Regions from separate parts of the Homo sapiens genome. Here region 1 is linked to region 2. The links come from fine-mapping of genetic effects on gene expression. A gene starts in region 2. The other region holds a variant in brackets. All regions are shown on one strand. Distances are between the middles of the regions. Region 1 overlaps AFAP1L1 (actin filament associated protein 1 like 1). Region 2 holds the start of AFAP1L1 (actin filament associated protein 1 like 1).

Evidence for each region. PIP is the estimated chance that this variant, and not a neighbour inherited with it, causes the effect.
Region 1: its variant is the best candidate, but not a certain one, in a credible set for the expression of AFAP1L1 in subcutaneous fat (TwinsUK, PIP 0.73).

Annotation. Positions count from the first base shown.
Region 1 is chr5:149,300,418-149,304,806 of GRCh38, reverse strand. AFAP1L1 (actin filament associated protein 1 like 1) reads right to left here. Exons shown (of 19, transcript NM_152406.4): 4 at 3,577-3,674; 5 at 2,281-2,389. Among named protein-coding and RNA genes, the nearest start is that of AFAP1L1, 31 kb to the right of the region's middle. The variant C/G (reference allele first, on the strand shown) is at 2,182.
Region 2 is chr5:149,269,956-149,274,344 of GRCh38, reverse strand. It overlaps AFAP1L1 (actin filament associated protein 1 like 1), which reads right to left and starts at 2,486. Exons shown (of 19, transcript NM_152406.4): 1 at 2,361-2,486. The coding sequence starts at 2,376. RefSeq lists enhancers at 886-1,425, 1,426-1,967, 1,968-2,507.

The DNA.
Region 1 (4,389 bases), 30 kb before region 2:
TGAGGCTCGGAGCCCGCCTTTCCAGCAGGCACCCTGAGGCCTCAGACGCTGGACATCTCCTGGGAGGTGAACGGGGGGGTCAGGTGTGAAGTAGGGAAGGGTGAGGGGGCGTGGGGACACAGTACTCAGACACCTGGCAGGGCTGGACGCTGTGAGCGAGAGGAAGGATACTCCCTGATGGGCTTGGCGTGCTCTCCCTGCACAAGGTTCCTGGCCCTTCCTGAAGCCCTCCCTTTCCTTCTGCCCCAGGATTCCAGCTGCTTCTGGGAGGTGTCTTCTCTGCCCTGTCTGAGAGGGAAGTGAGTTCCCTGGGGAGGTGAAGGAACCCCATATAGCCAATAGGCTTGACCTGGGATTCAAGGCCCAGCAGCACTTTGTTCCCTGTCCTTGAGTGTATAAAATAAAGTTGCCTGTTTCACACCCCCACAGCTGTTTGCGATAACACAGAACCTGAGACTATCAAGGCTGAAGAGGGCTGTGGATTACCTGATCCAAGCACCATAGCCAAAAGGTGCAATCAGCCCAAGGTCCATCAGCTGAGGAATGGATAAGCACAATGTGGTCTATCCGTATGGTGGGATAGTGTTCAGCCATAGAAAGGAAAGAAGTTCTGAGGCATGCTACGACATGGATGAACCTAGAAAACATGCTAAGTGAAAGAAGCCAGACACAAAAGGCCACAAATTATATGACTCCATTTATGTGAAATGTCCAGAATAGGCAAATCCATATGGACAGAAAGTGAATTGGTGGTTAGCAGGGGCTGGGGTGGGGAATGGGGAGTGACTGCTTAGTGGTATGGGCTTCCTTCTGGGGTGATGACAATGTTTGGGGACTAGATAGTTGTGATGGCTGCAAATACTGTGAATGTACTGAATGTACTAAATGCCACTTGCTGGACAGCTTGAAATGGTGGAAATGGTTAATCTTACGTGTATTTTACCACAGTAAAAAAATTCACCCATGGTAAAAAGCACAAACAGTAATAGAAAAGAGTATGAATGAAAAAAATACGTTCCCTTCACCCATATTTCTATTAATTTCCCGCAGGAAAATCCTGTTAATAGTTCCTTGCATATCCTTGAAAAATTGTTAAAACGGATGCATGTGTGTGTGTGTGTTTGTGTACACCCTATTTAAAAAAACAAATGGAATTGTTGTATGCAGTATTTTGTGTTTGACATTTTCAATGACATAATAAAACCGATCTGTCTTTGCTGATCAGAATTCATTTTAGAAATTTGATTATTTTTTGGTGGTTGGAGAGCATTCCACTGTGCTACTGAATGACAGAGCAGCATCACACAAACATTATCTTATACAAATTCAACTACTCATGCTGAGCCATCCAAACATTAGGATGTAGTTTCTTATATGTAACGTTAAGTCCTTTTACCCAAACAAGTGACTTCATCTGATCTCTTCATTCAAAAGAACGTCCATGTGTTGCAATGCTGGAGGAAGCCGATGAAAAGACCAAAGACTCTCCTTTATGGCCAGTTTAAGGGATTTTCAATGGTAACTTGTACCAGTGCCCACTAAATTATTTTACTGCACCCACCTACTAGTAAAAATATATACATATATTTATGTTTATTTTTCTATGTTATATATGTATATATAAACTTTTTTTTACAAATATGCTATTATCAGATTATAAATGCTACAAAACATTCACATGGAATTTATTAAAAGATATGTTGAATTAAATAGAAGTAAAGCTTCTGATATTTCTGCCTACATCATGTTATGAACCCCTGGGTACCCCCACTCTACTCTGACAGCCTCTGGTTTAGACCACGTGCTTTTTATTTTACGCATTGACTCGATAACCTAACCCACCTATAGGAGGTCATTCTACTGAAACAATTTCACCACCCACTCAAGAGGAGCACTTGGGTTAGCAGTTTTAGTAGGGGGAACAGTATAGTGGTGGTCATCTGTGTAGCTGCCTCCTAGCACACTGACATGGTGCGTCTGCTTCCTCTTTCTTGTTTTAAGGGTGGAAGCACAGAGATCCAGAGGGCAAGGGGATTTTCCAAGGCCACACAGATCTGGGACTAGAACCTAAGCCCCCAGCCCCTGGGGCCCCACATATTGGTCCACCCAGGCTGTCACCGAAGAGGCCAGGTGCCCAGGGTAGCTTCTCCTAAGCCAATGGTGACATGGTTGGGAGGGTGA[C/G]AGGCTTGCAGTTCCAGCTCCCACAGGACACAGAGGAACTTAAATTTGGCTTCTCAGGGACAGGAAGTCCCCAGCCCCACCAAGAGGACCAGAACTTACTGTGGGAGCTGATGTACTCAGGCGACTTGCCGGGTCCCAGAGGAAGGGCCTCTTCATAGTAGTCCTCAGGGGGAGGCTTGTTGGGGAGCGGTGGAGGCAGGTCGGCCGCCTGCAAGGGGACAAAAAAGAGGGCTAGGGGAGCGGAGCAGGGTAGGGAGAGAGAGGCTGAGGGAGAGGGAGGCAGGAGCTCGCAGAAGGCAGGAGGCAGTGTGAATGTGAAGCCATACCTTTTATAGAGCCACAGAGCTGGTAAAACTCGAGGGCATATTTATCCAGTGATTCTTACCCCAATTTTTTTTAATCATCAGGGTTCCCCTGGAATGTCTGCAAGTTTTGTGGACTGCCAAACAGTAGTAGTCATACTTTTTACTGAGCACATGCAGAATTACCAGAAGCTACTGTGAGTTCTGCACTACTCTGTAACCACGTCTACACACACACGAGGTGCAGTAGGACAAGGAAGCGTGAGGCCTGTTCTTTAGTGAGGCAGGACCACCCGCAGCTGAGTGCTGAGCCACTGGGCCAGGGGAACCGTGGCTTTACAGCTAAGTTCTGCCACGTGTGAGTTGTGGGACATGGGTCATATCACTCATTCTCTCTGAGCCTCAGTTTCCTCATCTGTAAAATGGGGATAACAATTGTGCCAGCCTCATTCAGTTGCTGTCAGCATGTAAAGGACATAGTAAGTTGCTAGTGACTGGTACTGTTGCTGGTGATGATGACAATGAATTATGCAGTTGACAGACAAAGCTTGTTGTGATTATGAGCCCCTTGCTCTAATTCCATGGCCCCAAGGTTGCGCATCCTATATCTGGTCCAGTCTTTCATTCTGTAGGTGACAAACTCAGGCTCAGAGAAGAGAAGCGACTCGCCTAAGGCTACACAGCAGAGTCATGGGGGTGGGCAGAGGTCACCCAACTCCTGGTCCAGAGCTTTTTCCATAGCCTGGCTTATGTTATGCAATCGGAAGTTGGGCTGGTGACGTCCTTCGGGCCTGAGGGCACAGGTAAGTTCACCACATTCTCCCTGCTCAGCACAAACACTGTGACTTCCCAGTCAGGAAGGTGGCAAAATAAAGAATAAAAATAAAAATAAATAAGAAAAAAAACACACAGCGAGCACATCACGGGCCATTGAAATGTTCACATGGTGCTGCCTGTGCCCTCACCCACAACCCGAGAGAGACAACAGGGTCCAGAACCGCCAGGAGAGCACCCAGTGGGAAGGGGAGAGCTTCCCTTGCCTCCTCCAGAGGGACAGAGGCCCTGAGGTGTGGGAACCCAGGCCATGACTCACGTTTCTCAGGCGTGGGCTCTTGGCTAGCTCAGGGCTGGCTCCTTTGCTGGGCTCCCCATCATCCTCTGGCATGTCCCGAAGGTCACTCAGGTCACAGTCTACAGAGGGACAGGCCATTGGGCAAAGAAAGCCAAGGATGAGCAGCACAGACCAGGGGAAGAGGGCTGGATTTGGGGTCAGGAGGCCTGAGTGTGAGGTCGGGCTCCACCACCCCTCCGTTAGTAACCCTAAACAAATGACTTTTGACTCTGAAACTCATCTGTACGTGGTGGCAATGATGCCTGCCTTGTCTGTTTTCCAGGATTGTAGAGAGGATCAAATAAAATCATACTTGTTTTGGTACTTTGGAAATCTTTGAGGGTTATGCTATAAAGGCACAGTGTGCTCCCTAAGTCTATGAGTCCCCAAAACTCTCTCACCAAGGCCTGTAGCTTTCTTTCTGTGTTGAACAGAGCTGTCTTCCCTCAGGATAGGGCTAGGACGGCAGGTACTCTGCATGCAGCCAGCTCAGCTGCTCCCATGCCCGTGGCAGCCATGCAAGCTATCATTTCTGCTGAGCCACTGCATCGCTCAGCCCAGTGTCTCAAGTGGCAATCACCTGGGAGTGGCCGGTGAGGAAACACCCTAATGTGCCATGCCTTCTTTGGACTGCATGGTCATCCCTACCATTCCTCAAGTCTCTGAGCTGAATTCCTATTCCTATGCAGACTTTGATTAGACTTTCAGAGCTGGCAGAACCCAGAGGGGCCAAGGACTGGCCCAAAGCGACTTAATGATGCGATGTTAGAGCCAAGCCCAGCCCAGTCGGGGGAC
Region 2 (4,389 bases):
AGAGAATACTACTAAGTATTGCTGTACAAGTAATCAATTCGAGGTGCACTATAAAGTGTGTTGTATTTTACTAATTAAACCACTGTTGGAGCTCCTCACTGTGCACTATGTGCCAGGTGCAGTGTCAGCAGATTGATCACAATAGATCCACTCCTTGCCTTCCTGAAGCTTACTTCTGGGTAGGGAGGCCGACACTAAAGAGTCAGATAACTATGTCTATAAAGTTGTGACAAGAGGTGTAAAGAAAGATAGCAGGCTAGAAAAGCCTGCAGGGAGAGAGCAGGTCAGAGCCCTCCTAGGCTCTCAGCACCAAGGGATTCCTGGGAAGTCTGACTTCCTAGGAAGAGTGCTCTGGAGGCAGCCTTCTGACGTGGAGGTTGTTGGTTACCAAGCATTTAAAGTGAAGTGAACTATTGTCACTCTGTCTTAGGATGACACAGTGCACTTTCCACAGGCCTGGGTAGGCCTAGGTATGGATTTTTGTACTGGAGATCAGACAGGTTGGTATTTAAAAACTGGTGGGGAGTGGGGGTGGTGGAGAGGTTGGGGAGGTGGCGGGCGACTAGGAGTGTGAAGGGGAGGGGGGATGGTGGTATTTGCTTTAGACGCATTATGCAGGAGGTGGGAACAGCAGGACTGAGGGGTGTGAGAGGTGCCTCTTCTCTCTGTTTTTCCTCCCTGATGTACACTCTTCACACTTGCCTAGAAATCAGTTAACAGGTGAGAACTGCTTTACAAATCTAGGCCTCAGTTGCTAAAGAACCAAACAGAAGCCCACTCTCTTTCCTGCCTGCCCTTCCCAGTCCCTGAAGGAGAAGGTGAATGCAGTATTCTCTGTTGGGGAGGGGCAAGTGAGGAGGTTGAACTGGAAGCCAGGAGTCCCCTCTGGCCCTCTGAGCTCGCCAAGCCTGACTTTCCGTTTAACAGGAGTAAGGGAGGTTACCCCACACCTGCTCCCGGCTCATCCCTGCCCCAGTGCCTGCTAATTGCTCCCATGCCCCTGTTCCCTTCTTTTTTTCCTCCCTTCGGGGGCTCAGCACAGCAAACAGGCAGATGGGGGAGAGGTGTGAGATTATCGTGGGGAGGGGAATGAATTTTCCATTATTAATAACAGCAACAACAACAACACTTCGCCTGTTGGCACAGCACTCACTAGTTTATCTAGTGCCGTCACACCTGTGATCTCTTTGGATCCCAGAGGTGCAGACTGAAACCCTGGGGTTCTGATTCCCAGCCTCTGACACTGTTCACATGTCCAAGCAGGCCACTTCTTTACAGACACACACATGCCCATCTGGCCATTGCCAAAGGCCATGTCTAGACCTTTACTTAAAATGTGCGCTGCCGGGCGCGGTGGCTCACGCCCGTAATCCCAGCACTTTGAGAGGCCGGGGCCGGCTGATCACCTGAGGTCAGGAGCTCCAGACCAGCCTGGCCAATATGGTGAAACCCCGTCTCTGTTAAAAATACAAAAATTAGCCGGGTGTGGTGGCGCATGCCTCTAATCCCAGCTATTCGGGAGGCTGAGGTAGGAGAATCGCTTGAACCCGGGAGGCGGAGGTTGCAGTGAGCCAAGATCGCGCCACTTCACTCCAGCCTGGGCAACAAGAGCGAAACTCCGTCTCAAACAAAACAAAACAAACAGAAAAAAATGTGCGCTAGCCCCCTACGAATGCTGCCCTCTCGGCTTATGTCAATCTCAATTTCAGTAAGTCCCCTCCACTTCTGTGAAACGTCTACCAAATACACTGGAAAAGGGTCGGCAAGGTGCCTTGGAGACCATCTAGTCCAACTTTGTCGCTGGTCCAGAGAGAAGGGCTGGGCCGAGGACACAGCTGGTGCGGGATAGAACCACCCCCGCCTCCTCCCTCCCTGGCGCACACATGCATGCACACGCGCGCCTGCTCACGGCGCTCCTCCTTCTCGCAATGCCCTAGGCAGCTGCAAACTTCGGTCCCCTAGAGCTTCTCCCTAGGGGCTGCCCACAGCGGGTGTTTCGGGAGTTGAACCTGTACACCTTGTTTTCCCCTTTAGAGTGGAATGAGGTGGGAGGAGCTCGCTGTCCTCCGGAAACTAGAGGGGGATCTTTTATGAAGTTACAAATCGTTAGCCTATGAAAACTCTGATTTCACACACGAGAGGCGAGTTGGCCCCAGGACACGGGCGTTGACACGCACCGGGTTGTCCCGGCAGCCGAAGGCACCTTTGCATAAGCGCCGCGTCTCCCAGTCCCCTCCGAGCGTTCCTCAGCCCCCGCCCCACCGCCCGCCTCTCTCCCTCCTCCTCTCCGGCTTCAGATCGTCCAGTCTCCCTTTCCCGCCCGGCGCCGCAACAAGTGCGGGCGTCGCGGCCCCTCTTACCCTGGCCTCGGTCCATGGCGCCGGCCCGGTCCCCGGGGAGCGGGCCGCAGGGCGCAGGGGCTCCGGCGCGGCTGGTAGCGGCCGGCGCGCTGCGCTCTCAGGCCAGCCCAGCGGCCGGCGCTCTCTGCGGTCCCCTCCCCCAGACAGGATGCTCGCCGGCAGCCCCCGCCCCGCCCGCGCCCGCGCCCGCCCCTCAGAGCCGCTCCCGGAATAGACCCGAGCACGCCTCGCCCCCTGGGCCGCAGCCCGCTGTCCCGTGGTGCCGCACACGCCCCGCCGCGCCCTGCCGCTCGCTCGCCCTCCGCGGCGCTCCCACTTGGGCTTGGAGGACCCTTTTCCCCGTCCGCACGCGTTCGTTCCCGCGCCCGCGCGGCCTGCCCCAGCCCGGACCCAGGAGGTGTGCGGCTTTGCTTGCACTCCGCTAGCGATGGGGTCTTACCACCGCACCCCTCAGCCGGCTCCATGCCGGAATGCGGAGACTGTTGGAGCGCGTTTTTATCCTAGGGAATCAAAACCCCCTTCCCTGCAGCCGCCACCCATTTCCTGGCTTTGGGCTTGTCTTCTCCATTCGCCGCGGGTCTTTCTTGAGCACCTTCTAAGCCAGACAGTGGGCCCGCGGCGATGCCGGTGCAATGTCAGTGGTGTTGCGAAAGAGGAGTTAAATAATAACAAAGATCTTCAGAAAGAAAAGCACCTGGGAAAGGGAGAAAGAGAGGCTTGCTGAAAGGTGGGCAAGGGCTTGGGACACTTTCAACTTTTGAGGTTCCTTGTGTACTAAAACGTGAAAACATAACGAGGATCTGGGAGAATTCAGAAAAAGAATAGAAAAATGAGTAACACGTGAAAACATGCAGAACAGGGTGATAAAAAATGTGGAAATGAATACTTTTAGCATACAAAATACAGTGCAATATAAGTGTACTTTTCGCAAGATTGTAGAAAATATTGCTATGACCAGTGTGGAACAGTAATGGGATCTAAGTTTAAAGCTGTATGAAGAATGTCAACTTCTTCACCTTATTAGTATATCCCTGTGAAAATAGGTCTCACTCATTTATACACAATATCAAATGTCTGACTTTAAGACCCTTCATAAAGTCCAGGACCAATTGTTCTCCTAGACACTGCTCCTCCCACCATGGGCCAGGCCATGGTTTTCAGCTTTGAGCTGACCACTGTTCCCTACTTAGAACATTCTGGAACAGGGAACAGCTACCACAGAGGTATGGAGGCAACAAAAGGCCTGGGAAAGACCCTCCTGTACTTTCCTGGACTGGGAATATTTTCTTTTCTTCTTTTTTTTTTTTCTTGAAAAGTCTCCCTTTGTCGCCGAGGCTGGAGTGCAGTGGCGCGATCTCGGCTCACTGCAACCTCTGCCTCCCGGGTTCAAGCAATTCTCCTGCCTCAGCCTCCTGAGTAGCTGGAATTACAGGCGCCCACCATCACTCCGGGCAAATTTTTGTATTTTTAGTAGAGACGACGTTTCGCCATGTTGGCCAGGCTGGTCTCGAACTCCTGACCTCAGGTGATCCACCTGCCTCGGCCTCCCAAAGTGCTGGGATTACAGGCGCCAGCCACCTAGCCTGGCCGGGAATATTTTCTCTATTGCTTTTATGGGCAAATTAAAATTAACATTTTCTTAAAATATTGCATCAGTAATTTAGTGTGTGTGTGTGTGAGCACTCAGACCAAATGTGATGTTGTGAACAGTGTATGAAAACTTGTGCATGGCTCTTGTTCTGTTAGTTTGGTGCAAAAGTAATAGTGGTTTTTGCCACTGAAAGTAATGGCAAAAAACGCTATTACTTTTGCTCCAATCTAAATACTACATAGTATAATAACTTTTCGTCAATGAGGTTTTCTTGCTCATCTGTGCTATGGGAAGCCTCATACTGTAAGTCCTCACAGGACTGTTGGTAGGGCAAATGAAATAATACAAACCCACTTTATAAACCACAAACAGCTATAAAATATGAGCCATTATTATTTTCTGAGTTCCTTTTTGTTGCTGTCCCCTTTTCCAATTTGA